Homo sapiens: one gene and its partners. The protein of the gene in region 3 interacts with the protein of the main gene of each other region in a biochemical or structural test. Each region holds a gene or a part of one and is shown on either strand. Other genes may lie near its edges. The genes, in order: UBTF, RRP9, SIRT7 and POLR1E.

Region 1 (7,030 bases), about 38 Mb from region 3:
TTTCATCTTCTTGGAAGAATTTGTAGCAGCTGGAGGTGCCCGCATCTCACTCAGCTCTCTCTGGAGGGAGAAAGGTCACGCTCACCCCCCAGTCCCACCCCCAAAATACTGCTGCCTTCTGCCTCATGCCATCAGCACCTTAGCTGGCTGTCTTTTTCTGTGCCAGGGAGGAGGAGAAACAGGTAGCTAGTGAGCAACTTCCTAACAGCTCACGTCTGAGGCAGGCACCACAGTTTACAAGTGCTTTCACAACTGCTCGCATCCTCCGAGTCAGCCTGGAGGTTAGCAATGTCACCCCCACCTTACTGATGAGAGACAGAGGTTCAGAGAAGGAAGCTGAGACTTGCTGAGAGTCACAGACCAAGGCTGGGACTTCTTGCTCAGAGCTGCCCAACCAAAGGGGAGTTCCCGAGCTTTCAATGAATGGGGTGGCCCCAGCCCCATTCCTACCTCATATCGCTTTTGGTCTTCGGCTGCCTTCTTAATCCACATCAGTTTCTCCTTCTTTTCCATGTTATTCCAGGTCATTTCCATGGCTTTCAAGGCCTTCACCCGGTCATTCTGGGGACCAATAAGGGTATCAGCCGTGGGAGGGGTCACCCGGGGCTAGAGGCTGCAGTACTACCCTTTCCCACCCCTGTCACCTTGAAGCGGGCCAGGTAGTCGCCGATAACGCTCTGTTGCCAGATCTCCTCAGCTCTTTTGGGGGACTCGGGCAGCTTGCCCCGTTCCTCGCGCTCCCCGCCGGGCTTCCTCTCCGACTGAGCCTTGAGCGCCGCCTCTCGGGCCTTGTACTTGGCCTGCGGGGATGGCCCGGGCGTCAGCCTTCCACCCACCCCCAGGGGGCGCGCGCTCCCCGCGCAGCAGCCCAGGCGCTCCCGCCGGCGGGCAGAAGCATGGGCTGGTGCAGATGTCTCCCGCCTGGGGCTCGCCCCCGCCTGGTCTGCGGCGCTCAGCTGACAGCTTCCCGCCTTCCGGCTGCTGGGCGCCGGCCCCACGTCCCAGCCCAGGCACCGCGTGGCTCAGGCGGCCAGGGGCGAGGTGGCACGGCCCGCCAAGGGGAAGAGGGGGCCCTGGCAGCCCCCCTGGGGGCACAGCGCTCCGCCAGGCAGCCTGACCTTCTTCTTCTCAGACAGGTCGTTCCACATTCGGGCCAGCAGGCGGGTCAGCTCGCTCTCGGAGAGCTCAGGCCGCTCCTCCTGCAGCTGCCGCCGTTTCTCCTCCGAGAAGATGAACATGGCCGACACGGGCCGCTTGGGCTTCTCGGAGCCGCCCTGTCCAGGTGCAGAGGGTCGGGGTCCGTGGGTGCTGCCAGGGAGCCCAGTCTTGCCCACCCCCGCCTGCGCGGCCGCACCCTCTGCCCACCTTGCCCCCTTCCTGGGCTGGCTTCTTGGAGGCGGGGCTGGTGGCCTGCTTCTTGTTGATGTTCAGCATCTTCTCTTCCCCCAAGACCCGCTGCTGCTCCTCCTCAGGCAGGCTCTGGACAGGAAAGAGGAGCACGGGGCTGCATGCCTGGCACCCAGACTGCATGGTGCCCTATCTCCAGGGGCTCACCAGGGCTCTGCCTGCCAAGTCCCAGTCTTCTCTGCCCACTGCCCCACCGGAGGAACACTCACCTCGAGGAAACGGAGCAGCTCCACCTCGTAATCTTTCTTTTTCTGGGAAAGTGAGTGGAGTCAGGATCAGTCTGGAGACAGTGTCACCACAGACCCTGCAGTACTCGGAGGACAGTGACCTTCAGCGGGCCTCCAGAGCCTGGGTGTGGGCTGGACTCCCTGCCTGGACGGGCTCAGTTGCTAAGCCCAGCCCAGCCCCACACTGTATTGGAGGCAGGTACCCAAGGCACACGCCACCAGGGACTGACTGGCCCAAGATGGGATCAGACCTCATGCTTCAAAACCCCAAGGCAGGGTGGCCCCTGCCACAGCTCACCTGATCACACTTCTTGTGATAGGCGTCCTTCTCCTTCTGGGACAGCAGCTTCCACTGCTGGCTGCACAGCACCATGCGCTCTGTGCTGGGCACGTCCTTCATGTTGGCCATGAGCTCTGCGCAGTACAGCGAGTAGCTGTTCCTATCAGAGCCGCGGGGAGAGAGGTGCAGCCCGTAAGCGAGCAGGGCAGCAGGCCTTCTCACCTGCAGAGCCCAGCCCAACTTCCCAGCTGCCCACTCGCCCACCCATCCCAGGGCAGCGCTCACGGAGGTGGCTTGGTGGGTCGCCCGTCAAACTTGTCCTTGAGCTGGCGTTCGGCCTTGGTGAGGGTGGACTTGGTGATACCCTCCTCACTGATGTTCAGCTCTGGGTGCTTCTGGATATAGTCTCTCATGATCTCCTGCAGAGCCAGGTGGGGGGACGGAGGGCAATGGGGTGTGGAGTTAGCTAGGGCAGGGGCAGGGGGAGAGCCGCTGGGGAGGGCAGGCAGGGAGCAAAGCTGGGGGTGGCTGCGCGTCAGTGGTGTCACACGAGACGTGGTGCCCTGCCCTGCCCTAGCCTGAGATCTCATGGGGGTGGGGGGTGGGGAAGGTAGGGGCAGAGGTGAGGGGCCCAGAAGGCCCCTCCCTCAACAGAGGGATGGGGAGTGACACCTCCCGCAGAGTGCGGTGGCCACGGAGTCGGAGGGCAGAGGCTCGTGAAGAGCCGGACGGGGAGGAGCGCAGCGGAAGCCTAACCTCGTACTCCTTCCGCTGCTCCAGGGCCTTATGAATCCATTTCAGCCTCTTTTTGTCCGAGAGCTGAGACCACTGCTTCCCCAGGGAGTCCTTCACCTCCTTCGTAGTGGCCTGCAAACCAAAAGCCGTCAGACACGCACAGGCAGCCAGGGGCAGGGGGAGGGGGGAAGGGGGAAGGGGGCACAGAGGCCCCCGCCCCCTCAGGCCATGGGAGGTCACATCAGTGTCCCCCACAGGCCAGGAGGGGAAGGCGGAGAGGCGGGGATCCCGCCTGGGTGCAAGGGGACTGGCTCATACACGCACGCACACACGCACACGCTTGCACGCCAGCTGGCCCGGGCCCTGTCCATGCAGCCCACCCCTGGGGAGGGGCCTCCTCTCCTGCTCCCCTGCACCGTGCCCGGCCGACCTGGCGCGGCTCCCCCCTGGCCACCGCCGTGCATCCTCCACCCCCAACCCTTGGCCGGACACTCACATCTGGCCGCACTTTGAGATACACCTTCTTCTCGTGGGTGTACCACAGCTGCTGGGGGGTTTTGGGCTTCTCTGGGATGTCCGATTTCTTGGCATTCTGGATTAGGTCGGGGTGATCCTCCCTAGCCAGGACACGGGGAGCAAGGATCAGCAGGGGACGCTGCCAGGGCAGACTCAAGCTAGCTGCCCCACCCACCAAGCCTCCTGGGCCTTTCAGCTGGGGCTCAGTGGGACGGTGGCTGCCTGCCTGTCTCTGTCCCTGAGCATGACACACTAGGGCTCACATGTGACCCATCCTCTTCCATGCCTCAGAGATGGCAAACTCAAGGCTCTGGCCAGGGTTAGCCTATTCTGCTGCCCCCAGTGCCCCGTGGCCCTCCTCTGGGCTCCACTGCCTTACCTGAATCGGGCCAGGTTTCGCTCGAACTCCTGTTTCTCTCTCTGGAAGTCCTGAATATATTTCATCTGGGGGGAGGAGGGGATGGGGTCACTCAGGACCCAAGGGTATCTCACCCTGAGCTATGAAGGCCACCCAGACCCCTCCTCGCTGGCTCTTCTGCCTCCCACGCTGTGATGCAGGGAGTGGAGGCTGGCGCCCTGCCCGCCTCCTGGCGGGACTCACCACAGAGCAGACCTGCTGGCTTCTACCACAGATGGTGGGAGCTGCAGGGGTCGCCCAGACACTGAATCCTACATCCTATTCTCTCCTTCTGAGCAAGAGTCCCAGAAGGGGGCCATGGCATTACCCACGGTCACACAGTGCGCAGTGGCAGCGCTGAGCCTCCCCCACTCGTTTCTCCAACACCATAGAACTCTCACAGTGGCGTCGGGTGCAGGCCTTGCTCCTGTCACTCCCTCTTCTCACTGTCTGTGGCAGCTGACATTAGTCTGTCCCCTTGTACGTAGCCTCTACATCTATGGCCAGGGCTGGGCTGAGTCCTGTTTCCAAGGCATGAGGGGAGATTGTGTGGAGGGGAACCCAGAGCGAGTTCTTCCAATACAAGTCTCAGCCAGCTACCCTGCATCTTCCTGCCCAGTTCTCACACCATCACCTTCTTCTCTTTCTCCAGGATCCTGGCTGTCTGGCCCCTCCAGCCCTCCCTCCCTCAGCCCACTCATTCTTTCCCACCACTTGGCTTCCCTTCCCTTCATCACCCCCTTTTTAGCCTCCCCACTCTCACCTCACTCCCTCCCTGCATCTTTCCCCACTTCTCCATAGTCTCCTTCTTGTTCCTCCTTTCCAATGTGTCTCTTTCTCTTCCTCATCGACCTTCTCTCTTGGCTCCCACACAATGTCCATCTCTTCTTTCATCCTCGCGGGCTCACAAGAGTGGCACTGGCAGGTGCCAGGAGCTCATGGCAACTGAGCCCAACCCCTGCCTCTTATAGAAGCACCAGGCATAGAAAGGCAGTGCTCCTTTCCCACAGTTCCCACAGAAAACCAGAAGCAGAGCTCAGCCTCCTCTTCCCCCATCTCAGTCCTCCTCAGACAAAACAGTTTTAGACCTGAAGGGGACCACACAGACCTGGCTCACCTCACATAAAGACCAGGCCCACAGAAGTGAAATGACTTACCAAAGGCCCCATACACAGCGGTTCAGTGGCAGAGCCAGGAGAACAGGCCCAAGTCTTGTGTCCCCCAGGACAGCACCTTGTCCACTCTACCAGTTTCTTCTGGCCTTCCCTGGCTCTGACTCTAGAGCTTGGCCTCTCCCTCCCATCCCATGAGAGTGTTTGGGTGTGTGCAGTCAACTGTCCAACATCCTCATCAAAGGGGTCAACAGTTCCAGCAATCCATACCCCTCTCTGCTTGGGCAGTGGTTGCAGACAGCTGGCTTTTTTGGGTACAGCACCAAGGGCATGTGAGTCTGCAGCCAGGGTATGCCAACCAGGAAAAAGGGCTACTCATAGCATGGCAGCGGCCAGTGCCCCCTTTTGAGAACTGGCTGTGTATGACTTTGTTTCCTCTCCAAGCAGATGTGCTTCTTGTCTTTCCTGCTGCCCTTCCCCATCTATCCCTGGCTCTGTCTCCTTGTCCCGTGTCTCTTCTTTGTGTCCTCTGTCCCCATCCCATCTTCCTCGTGTCCCATCTGCAGGCTCCTCCAATGTTTTGCTGCCTATCTCTGGGAGGGACCTCCTGAGCTCTGTGACTGAGCCCTGCCTGGGAGGCTTAGGCAACCCTCCACCCAGAGTTAATGCTTTGATGGTCTGGGACAGTGCCCGACCTCTGCAAGGAACAGTATGAGGCCAGGAGGGACAATGTGTGTCCTTGAGTGAACACGTGTGCGTGGAGAAGTGCACTTCACAGGTGGACGTGGCAGTAACAGCACTGGACTGGGACTCTGGGGCACTAAATCCTGCTCTAGCATCAATAGTTGTGTCACCCGGGACACTTAACCCTCCTGCACCTCAGTTCCTTGCCCACAAAACTGGGATAACCTTTTCCTAGGGTTACCTTTATAAAGACATTGCAAGTATCAAATGAGACCATGACGGGAAACGTCATAGAGGGTGAAGAAGTGCTGCGGAGCCTAACAGTGAGGATGGGTGTATGGGGGAGAGAGAGCTTGAAACAGAATGCTGTGGGTTTTCTGTAGGGGGAAAGGTTGGTCTGAGCACCTGCTGTCTGGTTTACATCTGTGATGGTGCCTGTGCCTGACCATGTGTGGGCCGAGGAAGGGGCAATCAGGTGTGGCTGCCCAGGACCTATTCTGCTGTGCTGACTCACCCTCATCCCTGATGCCAGGTTTCTCCAAGGCCTACCTCCAACTGACCCACACCACACCAGCTGCTCCCAGCCTCTCCCCTCCTCCCACCTTAACTCTCCTCCCCCCACCTTCTTCTTCTCCGGAAGCTCCTTGTATTTCTTGGACAGAATCTTGGTTAGGTCCAGGTTGCTCATCTCAGGGTGGAGTTTCGCATACTTGGCCCGCTTCTCCATGAAGAAGCGGAAATAAGGGGTCAGGGGCTTCTTTGGGAAGTCTGGGTGTTTCTGGAAGAAGGGACAAGGACACAATGGAGGTCAAATACATCCCTTCTTTGGACCTTTCCTCCCATACCCCTCATGCTCCTCCTCCTAGTAACTCACCTTGAGTTTTTTGCCTTTGTAAGGATTTTTAACATGTTCCTGAGCATCGAGGATCAATTCTGTCAATGTACGGAACTTCCTCACCTGGAGGAAGAGGGGTGGGAGGAAGGGGAAGTTGGGAAAAGGAAAATGCCACACAGTAGTATACCCCCATCTTATAACGGGTCTCTTCTACTCTTTACTAGACTAAATTTACCAAAGAAGAGCAGAGGCCAACAGCCAAATGAAGCAGGCAGCATGACACCCAGGCACTGGCCCATGCCTACCGCAGAGGCCCAGGCAGTCAGTACACACCAAAGGCCAGCAACAAGGGGACTAACTGACCTCAACCTGGTTGTCCATGCTAACACCTCCGTCAATCTCAGCATGCTAGCACCTCCGTCAATCTCAGCACAGCTCAGGCTGTTTGGCTCAAGACCACTCAGATAGAAAGTGGCATAACTTTAAGCCAGTGCTGTCAACCGTGCCACCTCCCAAAATGCAAAGGGGCAGGTAGAGAGCTAACGGGAGACCACATGAATGCCTCTCCTGGTCTCTTTCCTTCCTGTTTACAGCCTGTTTCACTTCCCCCACCACGCTGAGTGGGGGGTATGTGTGTATGTCAGAAAAGGGGGATCAGTTACCTCATTAGAAATCTCCACCCATTTGAGCTTGCACATGTCTCCAGAAAAGTCTTTAAATGCTACTTTTTCCCAGTCCATGTGTGATTCGGTGGTTTTGAACTTGGAGCTGTCATTGGATGGAAGGTTGTTCTTCATGCATTCCAGCAAAGTCAGCATGTCTTCCTGGGACCAACGG
Region 2 (7,561 bases), on a different chromosome or scaffold from region 3:
ACCACAGCACCATCCTTTACCCTGGGAACAAGGTTCCAAGCGAACCTTCACTGTTTGGGGATTGGCCTTTACTGGTGAAGTTACGGCTTTCCCCTCCATGCCCCAGCCCCCGGACCAGCTGAGAGTACTCACTTCACCCAAAGACAGGTGCTGCTTTGACCTGCTCCTGGGAGCTGGGGGTAGGTCATGGGCACTCAGACACAGAGAATCCAAGGCAGCCCACTCCCTCTGATCATGTGCCTGAAGACATCTAGTCTCTGTCCACTCCCCTAACCGTGTTTCCCAAGACTCACTCGTAAACCTGCCCCTGACTTCCCCAGAAGGGACCTTGAAAACTCTCAGGAAAGCCAAAGCTGGACCATGCCCCAGAAATAATTTAGTGCCCTGTGCCTGGCAAGCCTTCAGCCAACAGGGCTAGTGCTGCCCTTCCCTTACACAGCCAAGGGACCTGTGTTAACTTCGGACTTCTACTCAATTTAGCCAAACTAATTAATCTATTGTTGAAGGATTCATACGCATGAGACAGAACGCTAAAGAAATGCAAGGGAAGTACACACTATGATTCCATTTACAGGGCATGCTAGAAAATGCACAACTCTAGGGGCAGTGGTTAGCAGAGACTTGGGGGGAAGGAGAGGGGCTGACTACGAAGGAGCAGGAGGAGTTCTGGAGGGTGATGAAACTCTTTACCTTCAGGGTAGAGGTGGTCACACAACTGTGTGTGTTTGTCAAAACTCACTGAACTATAACTTTAAAAAGGGCATGTTACTATATGTAAATTATACCTAAATGGAAAATGTTAATTTTTTAAAAGAAGAACAAAGAAACCAAAGAAATGATTAACTCAAGTTAGGAATGACAGTTGCGGCTTCTAAGTTTCTGCAAATGTTCTAGTTCTTAACCTAAGTGGTAAGTAAGTGTACAGAGGTTTACCATTTTACCATTACTCTCTGTAGTGCAAATATATCTCATTCACTTTTCTGTATCTAACACACTTCACAACACAACATTCTAAAAATATTTAAAAGCACTTAGCCCACACTAGCCTGGCACACACTCACCCACAATAACCTTCGGATTAAGAAAAGTACATTAATGGCTGGGTGTGGTGGCTCACGCCTATAATCCCAGCACTCTGGGAGGCTAAGATGGGCGGATCACTTGAGGTCAGGAGTTCGAGACCAGCCTGGCCAACATGGTGAAACTCCATCTCTACTAAACATACATAATTAGCCAGGCATGGTGGTGCAGGCCTATAATCCCAGCTACTCAGGTGGCTGAGGCAGGAGAATCACTTGAACCTGGGAAGCAGAGGTTGCAGTGAGCCGAGATCGCACCACTGCACTCCAGCCTGGGCAACAGAGTGAGACTCTGTCTCAAAAACAAAAAAAAAAAGTACATTCTTTCCATGAGCAAATTAAGGCAACACATACTCAATTTTAGAAGCGAGTTCTAAAGTCAACTCATAGGGAAGGCACTAGGATTCTCTGGTCCAAGAGCCTCCAACCCACAGGGTCAGGCCTGACACCATGCCTGACCCTTTGAAAACCTGCAAGCAACCACACCCATCACCTGCAGAAATGAGGGAGGCATCCAAAGCCCTCTACAATCTACATGCACTTATGACCAGTCCTCCTGTTTTTGTGTGTGGTTTTTTTTTAGAGACAGGATCTTGCTGTCACCCAGACTGGAGAGCAGTGCATGATCATAGTTCACTGCAGCTTCAACTCCCTGGGAAGGGATCCCCAAACCTTAGCCTCCTGAGTAGTTGGGACTACAGGTGCACACCACCATACCCAGCTAACTTTTTTTTTTTGTACAGACAAGATCTCGCTATGTTGCCCAGGCTGGTCTCAAACTCCTGACATCAAGCAATCCTCCCGCCTTGGCCTCCCAAAGTGCTGGGATTAGAGGCATGAGTTACCAGGCCCAGCCCCCTTTCATCTTTTCTACTGCCCATTCTGGCACACTTACACCTCAGACTTTCCTCTGATCACTGAATGCCTTCCCTACCTCTCCGTGAGAGACTCCTCTTCATCTCTCAAGACCCTATTTAAATGTCCCTCCTCTGTTCCCAGAACACACAACTATAAAATACACACCTCACTACAACACACTCTCTTCACCCGCCTGCCTATCTCTGCACTTCCAACAGCAAAGGCAGTGCCTGGCATGTTAAGAGACGGGGAGCCCAGTAATTGTGAAATTGCAGGAAAACTGGCAAGGGAAGAAGGATGCAAGAAATACTTGACAGCTTTGTTCTGTTTTCCTGCAATTTCTCAATCAGTCCAGTCCCTGCCAAAACCTAAGGAGGTCTCAATGGCCTCGGATTGGGGCCCAGGGTCCTTCCCACCCAGAGACCTCGCAGAAACAAGACTTTGCAGGACCAGAAACTAAAGGAAACAGCCACGATCTCAGAGCCAAGGGACAGAGTCTTGGATTCTAGGCTCAGTTCTGTTCGGACTCACTCAGTCTTCCGTGCACCATGGGACTCAGTTTTCCCTCCCACTATGTGGAAAAGAATAGCTCACCTCTCGCTCTCAGAGTCGCTGGAGATCTCCTCATTCATCTTGCCGCCACCCTTGGATTTGCCCCTGTCCCCCGCAGAGTCGGCCTGGGAATTATACGGTCTTTTCTTTGGTCAGGGGTCCAGACCACCCTGGCATTGACCAAGGGCCCCCCCCCCTCGGTTCCCTCAGAACCCCAGGAATGGGGAAGGCGGTGGTTCCCGGGTTAAGCGAACGGCTTTCTAGGATTTGGCCCGCGGAGAGAGGGACGAAGCTGACTCCAGCAGGGGTCCAGGGCGAAGGGCTGGGGAAGGGCCGGGACCCAGGTCCCCTGGATGGGATGACGGTTGTCCCAGTAGCAGGGCTGACCGCGGCCCTCAGAAGCGCCATGCTCACCTTTCGCCGCCGCTTGCCGGCCCCCGCGCCAGCCCCGGCCCCAGAGGCCGGCTTTCCCCGCTTACGAGCAGCCGCTGTTGCCGACATGCTGCCCACCAGGCGTGTAGCAGCGGCCGCAGAACTCACGTGGCAGCTGAACCCTCCCAGCTCCCCAGCCGCCTGGCAAGACCCCGCGTATTGATAGGCTTCCACCGCCCGCCGGGCCCCGCCTCCTACTGCTCCATTGGGTCCTTCTGCAGGCTCTGCCACGCCCCCAGGCACCCATAGGATGCACGCTTGTAGCCCCGCCTCCTGAAGTTCCTAGGCTCCCGCACCAGGCTCGAGTAGGAAGCCCGCATCTCCACGGCGCTTCCGGCCTGATGCTGTGGCGCTTGCGCTCTGCTGCTGGCCCACTTCGAAGTCGGAGCAAGAGCCTTCTCTGTGTTTGCGCCCCTTGGCCGCTGGGGGGCGCCAGAGACGCGGCGCCCTTTCGCGTTCTGGAACGTGACTCCTCCCCTCCATGGGCAGCCCGGCGCTAGACCCAACGGGGATCCAAGCAGCCCCGGGGAGAGGGAGGCTGCGTCTGTATCCGGGCCCAAGGTCACCGCGCGACCGGCAGATGCGTGCTGCAGGCCCCGGCCACATGAGCAGCGCTACGGACGCGACTGCCCCGGCCTTGGATATGCCAGATCGAGTGTCCACCCGTCCGTGGGACTGGTCGCCTGACTCGGCCTGCCCCAGCCTCTGCTTCACCCCACTGGTGGCCAAATAGCCGATGTCTAATCCCCCACACAAGCTCATCCCCGGCCTCTGGCGATTGTTGGGAATTCTCTCCCTAATTCACGCCTGAGGCTCATGGAGAGTTGCTAGACCTGGGACTGCCCTGGGAGGCGCACACAACCAGGCCGGGTGGCAGCCAGGACCTCTCCCATGTCCCTGCTTTTCTTGGGTGAGTGTCCTATGGTCCTGCCCACGGCAGGGCAGGGCAAGGCCTGGTGGGACTGGCCTTTGCCCTCTATCAGTTCAAGGCCACTGATCCGGAGTTCTGGCTCCTCAGAACTCTTGAGTCCATTGGGAAGGGCTTCTACAGCTCTGGGTTCTAAGCTCCGGGAGGATAATCTGGCCCCAAGAATCCTGCCCCCAGGATCCTCTGCCCACCCTCCCCCATAGCTCGGTGACTCGGCCCGGCAACCATGCCAGGGCTGAACTAGCTGACACAGGGGGAGGAGCCCCGAAGTGGAAGAGAGAGAGCCTCCTTTCACTTTCCCTACCCCTCAGGACACACAGGTGAGCTGCAGAGGGTAGGGAGCCAGGCAGACCCTGTTGACCAGAGTGGGCAGACTGGACAGAGTCCTAACCTTGCACTTGGGACTGGGGAAAGGGGTGTTTCTGAGTGACAAAGAGCTGGGTGTGGTCTGGGGCTGGGAATGCCGTCAGAGTGGACACAGGATGCAGTGGGAGGCCACCGAAGGGCCAACCCGGGGTGGGGCAAGTTGGTGCTGTGCTGGCCCAGGGCAGGGGTGGGGACTGAGAGTGGGTCGTTGGGGATGAGGAGACCATGGAGGCCTAAGGGCCTCTCTGTGCCCCAGGACAGCCATGGCTCCAAAGCCGAAGCCCTGGGTACAGACTGAGGGCCCTGAGAAGAAGAAGGGCCGGCAGGCAGGAAGGGAGGAGGACCCCTTCCGCTCCACCGCTGAGGCCCTCAAGGCCATACCCGCAGAGAAGCGCATAATCCGCGTGGATCCAACATGTCCACTCAGCAGCAACCCCGGGACCCAGGTGAGCTGCAGTCCCCAGTCAGGCCCAGAGCCTGCCCACTGATAAGCACAAACACACCCAGGCCACCCCCTTAGGACTCTGTTCTGGTTTTGGAGCCCAAGGCCCCCAGGTAAGCGCCAGAGCAAGGCCATGTTCTCCTGACCCCAGACATCAGGGCTGTGTCCCGTCAGGTCCAGGCGGGTCACATCTGCCCTTCAGACCCCATGCAGGCCTCCTCCCACCGCACTTAGGGAAAGGCTGTGACTACATCAGTCTCCTGGGCGCTTGCCCATGTCCCCTCAGGGCAGAGCCATGTCCCTCTCAGATTCCCCCATCCAGGGCCCAGCTGTGTCCCCCCCAGCACCCCCCATACCTCCATGTCAGGGTTTAGCCATGTCCTCTCACACCGCATCCCCTAGGGAAGAGCAGTGACCCCCCCAAGCTTCCAAGACAGGGTCCCTCTGACTCCCACTGCCGTCAGACTCCTGTCCCCATCAGAGCCCTCTCGGTGTACGGCCAGGCACCCCATCTGACCCCAGCCAGCCTGCCCCCCACCTCCCCTCTGGCCCAGGTGTATGAGGACTACAACTGCACCCTGAACCAGACCAACATCGAGAACAACAACAACAAGTTCTACATCATCCAGCTGCTCCAAGACAGCAACCGCTTCTTCACCTGCTGGAACCGCTGGGGCCGTGTGGTGAGTGCCCTGCCTGCTCTGCACATACTCCCCAGGGTCCTCAAAAGGCCACAGCTACTGACTTGGGGGGGCACCTCCCAACTGTCCCAGGGCACTCAGCACAGGGCCTGGCCCGACACACAGGCCAGCAAATGCTGATGGTGGGCATACCCCTGAAGGCTGTCGGTTGCAGGGAGAGGTCGGCCAGTCAAAGATCAACCACTTCACAAGGCTAGAAGATGCAAAGAAGGACTTTGAGAAGAAATTTCGGGAAAAGACCAAGAACAACTGGGCAGAGCGGGACCACTTTGTGTCTCACCCGGGCAAGTACACACTTATCGAAGTACAGGCAGAGGATGAGGCCCAGGAAGCTGTGGTGAAGGTGAGATGGCCAAGGAAGGTGGGCAGGCCCTGGACTGAGGGAGGGGACTCGTTGGAGAGTTCCCGCTGGTTGGGCTCTGCCACTGCCCAGCTGCGCAGCCTCAGCCACAGAACTCCCCTCTGGCCTCAGGCTGGCTGGTCTCTGTCTGGTGTCACGCCCTGCCCCGCTGCTCCTGCCCACATGTGCCCTCTATCTTCAGGTGGACAGAGGCCCAGTGAGGACTGTGACTAAGCGGGTGCAGCCCTGCTCCCTGGACCCAGCCACGCAGAAGCTCATCACTAACATCTTCAGCAAGGAGATGTTCAAGAACACCATGGCCCTCATGGACCTGGGTGAGGGGTGAGAGGCAGGCAGGGTGGCAGGGGCCTCAGGGTGGCAGGGCTGTGGGGCTGAGTCTCCCCACTCCCCTGTCCCCCTAGATGTGAAGAAGATGCCCCTGGGAAAGCTGAGCAAGCAACAGATTGCACGGGGTTTCGAGGCCTTGGAGGCGCTGGAGGAGGCCCTGAAAGGCCCCACGGATGGTGGCCAAAGCCTGGAGGAGCTGTCCTCACACTTTTACACCGTCATCCCGCACAACTTCGGCCACAGCCAGCCCCCGCCCATCAATTCCCCTGAGCTTCTGCAGGCCAAGAAGGACATGCTGCTGGTGAGGGCTGGCAGGGGTGCGGGCAGGCAGTGGGGCACTGAACAGACAGCCTAGGCGAGCGAGATGAAGGGCAGGTGGCCAAGAAGGCCCAGAAGGATGGACTGCCTGGGCAGGCTGACAGACGGGTGGGGAAGGCTGGGCAGACAGATAGGGTGGGGAGGGACAGGTGGGACACACAGGTGGGGTGGCTACAATACCAGTCATGTGAGAGAGGAGAGGGGAGGCCAGAGGTCAAGTGGGAAGACAAACTGCCAGGGCCCATCATCCTAGGTGCTGGCGGACATCGAGCTGGCCCAGGCCCTGCAGGCAGTCTCTGAGCAGGAGAAGACGGTGGAGGAGGTGCCACACCCCCTGGACCGAGACTACCAGCTTCTCAAGTGCCAGCTGCAGCTGCTAGACTCTGGAGCACCTGAGTACAAGGTGAGTTGGGCCCCACAGAGGGGCCAGGCTATCAGTGGGCACTGTCCCTCTGCCCACCTGCCCTCGAGGTGCCCAGAGGAATACTCGCCCTCAGCCTTCTCTTCCTGTGTCTCCAGGGCCTGAGGAGGGCTTGGGACTGGGGGAAGAAAAATGGGGGATTAGCTCCTGAGCCTCCCACCCTGGCAACCAGCTTCTGCTCTCCCCACAGGTGATACAGACCTACTTAGAACAGACTGGCAGCAACCACAGGTGCCCTACACTTCAACACATCTGGAAAGTAAACCAAGAAGGGGAGGTGAGGGAGGTTCCCCCACCTCTCCCCCATCACCACTGTGCCTTAGGAAGATGTCCTTGGCTAATCGGTCCCTTAGCAAATCGTTTAGCAGCTCTGGTCAGTTTCTGCCGGCCATGAGTGCGCGTGAGTAAGCAGAGGGACACTAGGCCTTGGTCACAAGCAGCAGGGCAAGGCGACTGAGTGCTCGGGTGGCATCACTCCCATTTCTCACTTCCTCTCCACTCAGGAAGACAGATTCCAGGCCCACTCCAAACTGGGTAATCGGAAGCTGCTGTGGCATGGCACCAACATGGCCGTGGTGGCCGCCATCCTCACTAGTGGGCTCCGCATCATGCCACATTCTGGTGGGCGTGTTGGCAAGGGCATCTACTTTGCCTCAGAGAACAGCAAGTCAGCTGGATATGGTGAGGTGCCCCTCTGGGCCAAGCCCTGGGAGGGTTGGCACTAAGATGGATTGGGCCCAGTCCTTGGCCACTGGAAATTCATGGTGAATCCAAGA
Region 3 (3,768 bases):
CAGGCGCACGCTCAGCGGCCGTCACGCGGGCCTCACCCGCTGCGCACGGCCAATGGCGTGCGCCGCTCGGCCCGAGCCCCGCCCCCGCCTCCCCCGCCCCGCCTCCCGCCCTCCGCCCCGAGCCCCACCCCCCGAAGGCCGCGCCCCACCGCACCTCCGCGCACGGCCAATGGCGTGAGCCCCTGACAGAGTCCCGCCCCCTCCAAACGCACAGCCAATGGCGTGTGCCGCGCTTTCCGAGCCCCGCCCCCCGACCCACACCTGGCCTCTCCGCACCGCCCACACCTGGCGCTCGGCTGGCGGGGCAGTGCGGCGTGGGGACCGTCCCACCGCCGCCACCTCCGGGAACCTCCACGGGGCGCTGTCCCAACCAGGGGAGTTTTTTTTCTTATTTTTTGGCACAATAATCTACAGTTGTCCCCTGTCCAACCAAGGGAGTTTTAAGCCACGACCGAGCTGCCAGGCGGCAGACCTGAGCCCGGGGAGCCCGCGCCGACCACTCGGGGACACCGGAAGCCAGTGCAGAAACGTTTAATAGAAATAAAAAGGTCTGCATAGAGCCGAGGCTCGGAGCCACCCCTCTGCCGCACATCCAGTACAGAGAGGATTCTATAAAGTTCACACTTTTTCATTAAGTAGTAGTAGAAATACGGTGAGGCCCTGAGACTGGCCTGGTGAGCGAGGAAAGGCCGCTGGGCGCTTCCACTCTGCAGGCCGGGGCTGAAATAACCCGAGTTCCGTTCTCACAGAAAGGTGCGGCTGCCACCTCTTGACACAGAGGCCGGATGGGCAGGTGTCCTCGATGGCCAGGCCGTATCAGGGTACAACCGCAGCAGTGCAAGGGGCTTCCTCAAGGACAAATGGCTAAAAATGTCACGGTGAAAATGTCATCCCCAAAGAGTTCGTTCTCCCTAGACCCGTGGGGGCAACCCAGCCTTCACCGTGACACTGGCCATCTGCAAAGTGCCAACTGTTCTTCATCGAGCACGTGATTACGTCACTTTCTTCCTTTTTGTGCGTTTTGTGCAGCCCCTGCCAAACCAGCCCCCTAGGATGGGGGCCGAGCTAAGCGGTGCACCCCGGTCCCCAGGCGGGGCCTCCTCTCTGCTTCTGCACAGCGACTTCCGACTGTGGCTGCCTTCTTCACCAGCACGCAGGGGAGTCGCCAGTGAGAAAATGGGATCCTGCCACCTGCCAAAAAGGGAAAGCGGCATCAGGCGGGCCTGGGAGCCTCTCGCAGTCACACCTGCCCCAGCTCGGGAAAGCTGTCTGCGGTCCCTGCCTTCCCATCCCCTTCCCTCCCGTGTCAACTGCGGCGGGGCTCTGGTTGGCGGCAGCTTCATTGTTACCAAGCTGCAGAACGGATGTGGGAGAGGTCACCTCTTAGGTGGTGACTCAAAGGTCGGCACCCACACTAGCTCGGTCTCCTCAAAACTCCGTGTCCTTGTCCACCACTGAGCGGCGTGCACACACAGGGTGGGGCAGCAGTGGCCCCAGGGCTGCCTCCGTCTCCAGGGATGAGTCACTAGCAACTCTGGGCCCCACCTTCCACTTGTACCGCTGGGGCAGGTGGACCAGACCCTCTCCCCCTTCCCAGCTGACTAGGGAGGCGTGGCCTACAGACGACCCCGTGAAGAAAGCATGTGTCTGACGGAGATGCAGAACCACAGATCATAACTTAAGATACAGATACGCACTGATAAGGAAAATGAGCTAAGTTAATGTAAAAAAAAAATACAGTACACGATAGCCCACATCACAGAACACCACACACATAACATACAAGAAGTGCCAGGCCCAGAAGGTGAAGGGATCCTTAATTTCTTGAACCCTTTGATTAAAAGAAGTTATTGATTTCCCCTATAAGACCCTGAAAATTCACAGAGAAAGAGAGTGTAAACTTTTTACTCAATACATACACCAAGTCTAAATTATCACAAATTCTGTATTAAGGCACAGTTTGTTTAAGCTTTCCCAAAGTACGCCAACTCCCAAAACCAAGCACACAGATTCTGTCTGACCAGAGCTGCCGAGTGCTCGTCCCCTCCAGATGCTTCCCACCAGGCATCTCGGAGAGCTCCACGGGGAGGCCTGGAGCAGGAGCACGCGGGCAGAATCCCTCTCCCCGCGGGGATTGTGTGTGCCACATCAGCCAGGGCAGGAGTGGCACACGCAGGGTCTCCGCCAACCACCGAGGTCAGGCCCTCTGGAGACCACCACGCTTCAGTCATGCCTCAGGCACCACTGCAAACACCTCAGAGCTTCCTCCACACTCAGCTCACGAGAGAAGACAGACAAGGCCCAGCACACAGAGGTGCGGGGAAGCAGGCTGCTGCAGCGGCTCACTCACCTGCTATAGGCGGGGATCTCCAAGCCCAGCTCGGCCATGAGGAGCCGCATGACGTCATCACACTTCCCATGTAGCTTCAGGGCAGCCCAGTCATCCTTCGGGGTCCACTGAGGACAGGGAAAGCCGAGTGAGAGTAACAGCAGCCCAACCCTTCCCGGTGGCCTGTCAGCCTTGGCCCCTACGGGCTCAGTCGGTGCTCCCTGAGCACCCACGGGGGCCCTATCAGACCGCCCTGGTGCATGGGTGTGGGGTGTCTCTGGCTGTGCGTTCTAAGACCCAGATCTAAGGACGTGGCTCTCAGCACCCGAGTTACCTGCAGGTTCACGATGTAAAGCTTCGGCCGCCGGCTAGGGGGCTTGGTCATGCACCAGAGGCGTGGGTACTTCTTTAGAACCTGTGGAAGCAGACAGACAGACACCGCACACACACAAGGGACAAGTCTGTACAGTGCTGGGCCGCAGAGCTGGACACCCTCGGGCGGGCAGGGGCTCGGTTCACTCATTGTGTCATCGGCACGTACCTTCAGGCTGGACCCTAGACACAGGATGGTGTCTGCTCTGCTGGCAGCCTCGGTCGCCGCTTCCCAGTTCAAAGGCTGCCCCAACGTCCCCCTCTCCCCAAAGTGCACAATGGTGTCCCGCAGCTGGGTCCCACACTTGTGGCAGGTCCGGCCTGTCTGGTGTCTGTGGAGGGCAGTGCGCTCCGTCACATCGAACACCCGCACGTACTCCCTGTTGGGAACGCAGGAGGTACAGACCTAGAGGCAAGAGGGCACAGTGAGTGGGACCCGCCTGCCCATGGAGACCCTGGGTCCCTGCAGGACTGCTCACTTCAATGTACATGTTCCCGTGGAGCTCGGAGATGGCCGTGCGCGGCAGCCCACTCCTCAGGTGGAGCCCGTCACAGTTCTGAGACACCACATGCTGCACCTGGAAGGCAGAACGGGTGGCAAGGGGAGGGATGGCTGCCAGTGGTGGTGGGGAGGTCAGTACCCGGCCACAGCGAGGCTGTTCTGAGCCCCGCCGATGGCTCCCAAAACCAGGGGCAGCTCCGTCCCCCCAGAGAGCCTTAGAAAGTAAAACACACAACAGGTCCAACCACCAGGAGTCAAGAGGGCCTGTGGTGGGGAGGGGCTGTCCTTCCTCCAGCCCTGATGCACCTGGAGTGGCTGGGAGGGCAAGAGGTTGCACCGTCCCGGCAAGGTTGGGAAGTGGCTCGGGGTTTGGCAAGGGCCACTCTGCCCCAGATCCATGCTCTCTTGGGTCATGACATTTCAGGTCCCTGGGGACCTAGGCAGATCAACCACTACACCCCATTGGTTGAGGGTGTTCAGCAGAAGGTCCCCAGAGATGTCCTATAAGCCTCCCCTGTGACTAGGATGGCTTCTGAGGTCCACAGAAAAATGCAAGGGAATCACA
Region 4 (7,030 bases), on a different chromosome or scaffold from region 3:
CATCTTCAGTATTTCTTCTGACGTGACGTTCCTGAAAGCTTCAGATGGGCTCTGAAGAGCTTCATACTCCGCAGGGGAAAGAACTAGTTACAGGTCAAGAATATAATCCAACCAAAATAGAAACATCCAACTAGCTAGGTCATCTCATAGCAGTGGCATTTCACAGACAGGGAAACAGGCTCAGAGAGCCAAAGATCACACAGGGCAGATCACATAGGGGCAGAGCTTGGTGACTCAGTTCTCCGACTCCCAGCCCAGAGCCCATTCCCTGCCCAGGCTTTTCTGCTTTTTCTCATCACAAAGCCACTGCAGGCATTTTCCTTCTGACCGGACCCCTTGGGTGGTGAAATTCTAAGCTCCAACCCTTCCTTCAACAAAAGTGGTCTGCCCTAGACTTTGGGCATTTGGCTGGTTCAACTCTTATTTTGACTCTCCATGGAGAGTGAGCCCCACAGGTCTAAGCTGTGGGCATTTGGCATTTTGCTGAGGAATGGATTTGAATCCCAGGGGCCGGTCCCTCAGCTAGTGAGGAAGCCAAGTTAACCTCCTGGCAAGAGCACTGAGCAACTGCAAAGGTTTGGATGGAGCTCTTGTGAATGTCACAGAACACAGACACCCTCAGAGAACCTGACTGCACACACGTGCAAACATCTCAACTTGTGAAATAAGGCAGCTTTTCTACTGCAAGAAGGATACGATCTTCAAATTTATACACGTCTTCAGGCTTGGCTGCATCATCATAGCAGGGAGGAAGGTAGAGGGAGTCATCTTGCAAGTCATTGTGGATAGCATCGCTGACCAGAGCTTTTCAATAAAGAAACAATCCATGTATCACCCTGTTTGTTTCCAGTTCCCCAACATTCTTTTCAGTCTGTGCACTTCAGACCACCAATGGTCCAGAAACCCCAAGTCTAAATGCTTCTGCCAAAGTGACCTCGCCTCCCCATCAGGCTGACTGCTTCAGGACTGCCATGTTCACTCATGAACAAACACAAGCTAGGCACTGGAGAAGGTGGAGGTGACAAGATTCCCCTCAGGTAACTTACAATAGAGTTGGGATTGACAGCTGTGCTAATACATAAACATTTACAATATAAAATGAGAGAAACTAAAAGTGAGGGACGTCCAAAATAGCCTTTAATGGCTTAACTTCTAGAAAAACTTGCCACACATTGTAGGTGGAACAAAACTTTCAGAATATAACACTGTAACTGCCCCACAAGAATAACTCCGCAGCCAGGTGTGGTGGCTCACACCTGTAACCTCAACATTTTGGAAGGCCAAGGCGGGAGGATGGCTTGAGCCCAGAAGTTTGAGACCAGCCCAGGCAACATGGCAAGACCCTGTCTCTCCAAAAAACTAAAAAAATTAGCTGAGCATGGTGGCACACATCTGTGATCCCAGCCACTTGGGAGGCTGAAGTAGGAGGATCACTTGAGCCCAGGAGGTTATGGCTGCAGTGAGCCATGTCTGCACCACTGCACTCTAGTCTGGGTGATAGAGCAAGACCCCATCTCCAATCAATCAATAAATAAATTTGTGAAAGTGTTGAAATCTATATAATCATAGGGTATGGAAAGATTTTCCAAAAATTACTAGAATTTCATTCTTAATAGAAAAACTGCTCTGCCCAGGGCACAGTGGTGTGCGCCTATAATCCTAGCTACCTGGGAGGCTGAGGCGGGAGGACTGCTTGAAGCCAAGGGTTCAAGATCAGCCTGGGCAACATAGCAAGACCTCATCTCCAAAATCGGTAAAAAGAAAAGCTACTCTTACACAAACTTGCTCTTATGTTCTTATAATGTATTTGAACAATAAATACATTTTAAAATAATACAATTAAATACTCCAGCTGCTGAATACCGGAAACAGAGCCACTGATCCCAAAGTGAAATGCCACCTCTGGAGGCTCATTTCCATCAACACATCAGCCTTTTTGACCAAAGCTTCCCTGCAACGCACAAGGAGAGACCTGAGGCCTTCTCCCTCCTCTGTGCCCTGCAGGCCATAACCCCAGCACCATAAGCACGGCAGGCATGTATCCATTCCATGCCTGTCCCTGTACTTGACTGTGGATCACTAGAAGACAAAGCCATGTCGGATGTTTCTTACTACTTCCAGAACCTGTCCGTGAGAAGGCCTTCAGCAAGAGGCTGAAAGGAATCCAGCCCTAGCTCCCAGCATTCCATGTGTGGGTGGGTAAAAGATCTCAAGAGAAGAGAAAGCTGTCATTATGGGCAGACTCTTAGCCCAAGTTCCAACTTCTTACCAGTCACACCCTTCGTATCAATGATAGTCTCTGCAGCTTTAGCCACTGCACGATTCAAAGATTCATTGCCAACTCTGTTCATTCTCCTGGTGTTCAGAGCTCGCTTCTGTTTGGTGGTACCAAAGGCTTCAATACAAGAATCCATCTGTTTATGAGATAAACCTGGTTACTGGGGACAGGACAGGTAGGTGCTGCCCCTCCTAGCTGTGTCACTATGGGGATACTCTCAGCATCCCAGAGTGATCACTACCTCACCTGTGAATAAGGCTGAATCGCACCTATTTACCTCACAGGACTGCTGTAAGCACCAAATGATATTAACAGATTGATCAATCAACAGCATCTCCATCAGTAAGATATAAAGACTTGACTAGGATTAGGGCTGGCAAATCTGTAGCACATGGCTTACCATTCTCCCATCCTATGCCCGTAACAGACAGGAATAGTAGAATGGTAATTCTCCCATCTTACACCCGTAACAGACAGGGCTAATAGATCACTGACTCCTTCCCCCTGAAGCAAAAAGTAGCCTCACAACCCTTCTCAATACAGTGCTCCACACAGCACCAAAGATTCAATCAGTTTGTCATCTTGGGGTGAGATGACCTTTGTAGGGACCTTCTACATTGAAAATCCCCAAGTTTACTTTGTTTTAACGTGAATGTTTTCAGGCTACAACCAATATATTCTAAAACTTGGACTAAATCCTAAAAACAAGCATTATGCTACACTTGTATCAGCCCAGAGAACCGACTCCAAACATTGGCACAGAGCTGTGTTCAGCTGCCCCAGATGGGAGCCAGACTGTTCTCTGTGGGACCAAGGAGGCTTCTGCAGGTACAAACTAATTGTCCAGAGAAACAGACTGAATGAGCGGGGAGCAGCCAGGGAGACCCTTGAGTTCAACAAGCTCATTTCACTGATGGAGAAACCCGAGGTGTAGAAGGAACTTGCTTAAGGTCCCACATCTTAATTCTATCACACTCACCTTTTCTCTGTAAGTTTTGGTCTGACTCTCTAGCGCCAGTTCACTCTCAACTGATACATCTATCAAAACACACAAAAACAGAGAGAAAGAAAAGTCAATTGGGAGGCCTACAAATAGTAATAGTGTTTAATATTCATTTGTCTATCTAAGAATAATAGATTTCTTTACTATAGGACTTCCCTGAGCCTAACATGAGTGTATACTGTGAATATTTAATATGCAGCTTTAGTATACAGTTAAAGAACTTGGAAAATAAATTAGCCAAATCAAGCGGTCATCCAGCCCAACCTCTTCATTTTAGAAATTAAAAAACAGAAGGCCCACAGATGAAATTACTTGCCCCAGGTCAGTTCACCAGGTAGTGGCAGAGACAGGATTAGAAAACAAGTCCTTGGCTCTTTCCAGAAAATAATTTTGCTTTCTTGGTGAAAGACCTAAAAGCAGGCATAAACATGAGGTATGTGGTACTTACCGATGCTCTCCAATCATCTACAAAGTACTCAAATAAGGGCAGTATAACTTAGTACACAACAGTACAAGCTCTGGAGTGGCCTTGCCTGTTATCTCAGCCATCACCCCTGATAAGGTCATCTAACCTCTGTGCCAGTTTCATCACTGGTAAAAAAAGAACAACAGTACTTACTCCAGAAGGTTGGTATATGCATGGAAAGTGCTTAGAACAGTGACTAGCATATAGTAAGGACTTAAATGTTATCTCTGTGTGTGTGCTACCTAGAATAAACTCATATTTACAAACTTCTTACATATAACAACAAAAATATGTTTAATCAACACGTTAAATTACAATTTTCCTTGCCTCCCTGGATTTTACAAGAACAGTTGGAAGATGATTTAAATATAGTTATATATGTTTGCAAAGCAGGGGGACACCTAGGAAATTCACAGATGGGTGTCCGGACTCAAGAGACCTTTAAAATTACGTGTAAAATTTGGCTAGGCACGGTGGCTCACACCTGTAATACTAGCACTTTGAGAGACCAAGGTGGGTGAATCACTTGAGGCCACGAGTTTGAGACCAGCCTGGCCAACATGGTGAAACCCCATCTCTACTAAAAATACAAAAATTAGCCGAGTGTGGTAGCGCACACCTATAACCCCAGCTACTCAAGAGGCTGAGGCAGGAAAATCGCTAGAACCCGGGAGGCAGAGTCTTCTGTGAGCCCAGATTGCACCACTACACTCCAGCCTGGGTGACAAAGCGAGACTGGGTCTCAAAAAAAAAAAAAAATTATGTATAAAATCCCATATTAAAAAAAATCCCATATATATGTATTTGTGTATCATATATGTTTCTCAGAAGTAGGTCCAGGTCCTTAGCAGATTCTCAAAAGGGATGGAAGCACTGCTTTGAGAGAATAAAACTGGAACTAATGCCTCTGAGGTATCAGGCAGATTCACAATGCTCCCAATGTTTCTTTCTTGTCTATCGCCCTATCCTGCCATGGTTCCCAGTATTTAAGGGCATCACTAAGGATTCAAGTTCTGAGATTTAAGGAACAGAAGCCCCTTGAGTGTGACCCTTTTATTTATTATTTTGGAAGATCTCACTCTAGCCCTGAGCATTCTAAGATGACAAAGCAGAGAAACAATGTAAATTCTTCCACTGGATTAGGGAAAAAAAATAGATCTTCCTCAAATTAGTGTAGAGACTTGTCCTCAACGTGAAAGTTACTATACAACTTAATAAGCAATTTCCTTTGTCTACCAGAAATTCTAAAACCTCTTTACCCCAACTATAACAGTTAAGAATTAAGAAAGAACCCTTTCGGCCAGAACTGCCATCTTGCAGTAATTCATCAAAATGACAAACACAAAGGGAAAGAGGAGAGGCACCCAATATATGTTCTCTAGACCTTTTAGAAAACATGGAGTTGTTCCTTTGGCCACATATATGTGAATCTATAAGAAAGGTGATATCGTAGACATCAAGGGAATGGGTACTGTTCAAAAAGGAATGCCCCTCAAGTGTTACCATGGCTAAACTGGAAGCGTCTACAGTTTAGCATGCTGCTGGCATTGTTGTAAACAAACAAGGGCAAGATTCTTGCCAAGAGAATTAGTGTGCGTATTGAGCACATTAAGCACTCTAAGAGCCGAGAAAGCTTCATGAAACGGGTGAAGAAAGATGATTAGAAAAAGACAGAAGCAAAAGAGAAAGGTACCTGGGTTCAACTGAAGCGCCAGCCTGCTCCACCCAGAGAAGCACACTTGGTGAGAACCAATGGGAAGCAGCCTGAGCTGCTGGAACCTATTCCCTATGAATTCATGGCGTGACAGGTGTTTAAAAAATGAAAGACCTCTGGACTGTAAAAATGTTTCTCTTCATTGAGTAGAAGTGTGGTGTTCTCTCCCCCAAAGAAATATTTAAGGCAAATTTTAATTATGTCCTAGTTCATTATGTAATGTCTTTACTCTTCAAATTTAATGTATTTCTTGCTGAAAGACGTGAGGTAGCTTATTGTGCAACAAACTCCTCGATTGTTTAGAAAATGGCCAGGTATTACGTATGAAATATTTGTACTGGTTTGAAGATAGTCCCTTGAAATGATCAAGGAAGAAATAAAGTAATTTACAAAAATAAAAAATAAAAATAAAAAGAATGAAGGAAGTTCTTTTATGGAAAAGATTTTATATCAGACATGTCCTCTAATATTCTGCTCTGATCATTGCTCAGATTGCTTTTATGAACCTCTGACCTCAAGTCTCTAAACACTATGGGGACAGGATCTGTGTCTGTCTTGCTTACTGCCACATCCACAGCCCCAGCTTGGTGCCTGGTACATTAGGTTATCAATAAGTGTGTGCTGAATAAAAAACTCTAGGCCGGGCGCAGTGGCTAGCGCCTGTAATCCTAGCACTTTGGGAGGCCGAGGCAGGTGGATCACCTGAGGTCAAGAGTTTGAGACCAGCCTGGCCAACATGGTAAAACGCTGTCTCTATTAAAAATACAAAAATTAGCCGGGTGTGGTGATGTGCACCTGTAATCCCAGCTACTCGGGAGGCTGAGGTAGGAGAATCACTTGAACCCGGGAGGTGGAAGTTGCAGCGAGCCAATATCACACCACTGCACTCTAGCCTGGGTGACAGAGTGGGACTGCATCTCAAAAAAAACAAAAAACAAAAAACAGTGTGTATATAAAAAACCATTTTCTCAACACAGACAAAGCAGAAAAAACAGAATAAATAAATTAAAATAACTATAAAATGTGTTTTATAAATCTAAAACTCAAGCCAACTCATCCAGCAAACCCAAACTATGCATTATTTCTGTCAGCTTTCATGACTGGGACCTACCTGAAAATAGTGGCTGCATGTTGAACAATTCAGCATCATATACTTCCATTTGGCCAGAGGTCTTGTTCAAAATTCCCACAAAGTGCCTGAATAAAGAAGAAATAATACAAATAACAATGGATTATTCAAAAGCATTATTTGTACAGCTTTCTTTTTTTTTTTTTTGAGACAGAGTCTTGCTGTCACCCAGGCTGGAGTGGAGTGGCATGATCTCGGCTCACTGCAACCTCCACCTCCCGGGTTCAAGCAATTCTCCTGTCTCAGCCTGCTGAGTAGCTGGGATTACAGGCGCACGCCACCATCCCCGGCTAATTTTTGCATTTTTAATAAAGATGGGTTTCACCATGTTGTCCAGGCTGGTCTCGAACTCCTGACCTCAGGTGATCTGACCCTATCAGCCTCCCAAAGTGCTGGGATTACAGGCGTGAGCCACTGCACCTGGCCCTGTTTCCTGTTCA

Evidence for each region.
Region 1: the proteins of SIRT7 (region 3) and UBTF form a complex in vitro, tested with the Homo sapiens proteins (one study listed by BioGRID).
Region 2: of the proteins of SIRT7 (region 3) and RRP9, one has a biochemical effect on the other in vitro, tested with the Homo sapiens proteins (one study listed by BioGRID).
Region 4: the proteins of SIRT7 (region 3) and POLR1E form a complex in vitro, tested with the Homo sapiens proteins (one study listed by BioGRID).

Annotation. Positions count from the first base shown.
Region 1 is NC_000017.11:44,209,674-44,216,703, forward strand, and holds part of UBTF (nucleolar transcription factor 1), read right to left. Parts: coding exon 6,856-7,030; intron 6,317-6,855; coding exon 6,233-6,316; intron 6,137-6,232; coding exon 5,981-6,136; intron 3,610-5,980; coding exon 3,545-3,609; intron 3,267-3,544; coding exon 3,146-3,266; intron 2,782-3,145; coding exon 2,671-2,781; intron 2,334-2,670; coding exon 2,200-2,333; intron 2,075-2,199; coding exon 1,933-2,074; intron 1,659-1,932; coding exon 1,617-1,658; intron 1,480-1,616; coding exon 1,366-1,479; intron 1,275-1,365; coding exon 1,119-1,274; intron 801-1,118; coding exon 645-800; intron 562-644; coding exon 451-561; intron 61-450; coding exon 1-60. UniProt on the Homo sapiens protein: Recognizes the ribosomal RNA gene promoter and activates transcription mediated by RNA polymerase I (Pol I) through cooperative interactions with the transcription factor SL1/TIF-IB complex.
Region 2 is NC_000003.12:51,938,878-51,946,438, forward strand, and holds the start of RRP9 (U3 small nucleolar RNA-interacting protein 2), read right to left. Parts: upstream 3,028-7,561; 5' UTR 2,991-3,027; coding exon 2,904-2,990; intron 2,631-2,903; exon of another isoform or gene 2,615-2,630; coding exon 2,532-2,614; intron 1-2,531. Other genes in the region: protein mono-ADP-ribosyltransferase PARP3, read left to right, coding at 4,479-4,661, 5,212-5,340, 5,513-5,701, 5,901-6,033, 6,121-6,347, 6,618-6,767, 6,976-7,062, 7,289-7,466. UniProt on the Homo sapiens protein: Component of a nucleolar small nuclear ribonucleoprotein particle (snoRNP) thought to participate in the processing and modification of pre-ribosomal RNA (pre-rRNA).
Region 3 is NC_000017.11:81,911,424-81,915,191, forward strand, and holds the end of SIRT7 (NAD-dependent protein deacetylase sirtuin-7), read right to left. Parts: intron 3,280-3,768; coding exon 3,181-3,279; intron 3,108-3,180; coding exon 2,871-3,107; intron 2,745-2,870; coding exon 2,664-2,744; intron 2,458-2,663; coding exon 2,351-2,457; intron 1,192-2,350; coding exon 993-1,191; 3' UTR 516-992; downstream 1-515. UniProt on the Homo sapiens protein: NAD-dependent protein-lysine deacylase that can act both as a deacetylase or deacylase (desuccinylase, depropionylase, deglutarylase and dedecanoylase), depending on the context. Specifically mediates deacetylation of histone H3 at 'Lys-18' (H3K18Ac).
Region 4 is NC_000009.12:37,488,943-37,495,972, reverse strand, and holds part of POLR1E (DNA-directed RNA polymerase I subunit RPA49), read right to left. Parts: intron 6,659-7,030; coding exon 6,573-6,658; intron 3,692-6,572; coding exon of another isoform or gene 3,598-3,691; intron 3,317-3,597; coding exon 3,258-3,316; intron 2,415-3,257; coding exon 2,270-2,414; intron 805-2,269; coding exon 697-804; intron 84-696; coding exon 1-83. UniProt on the Homo sapiens protein: Component of RNA polymerase I (Pol I), a DNA-dependent RNA polymerase which synthesizes ribosomal RNA precursors using the four ribonucleoside triphosphates as substrates.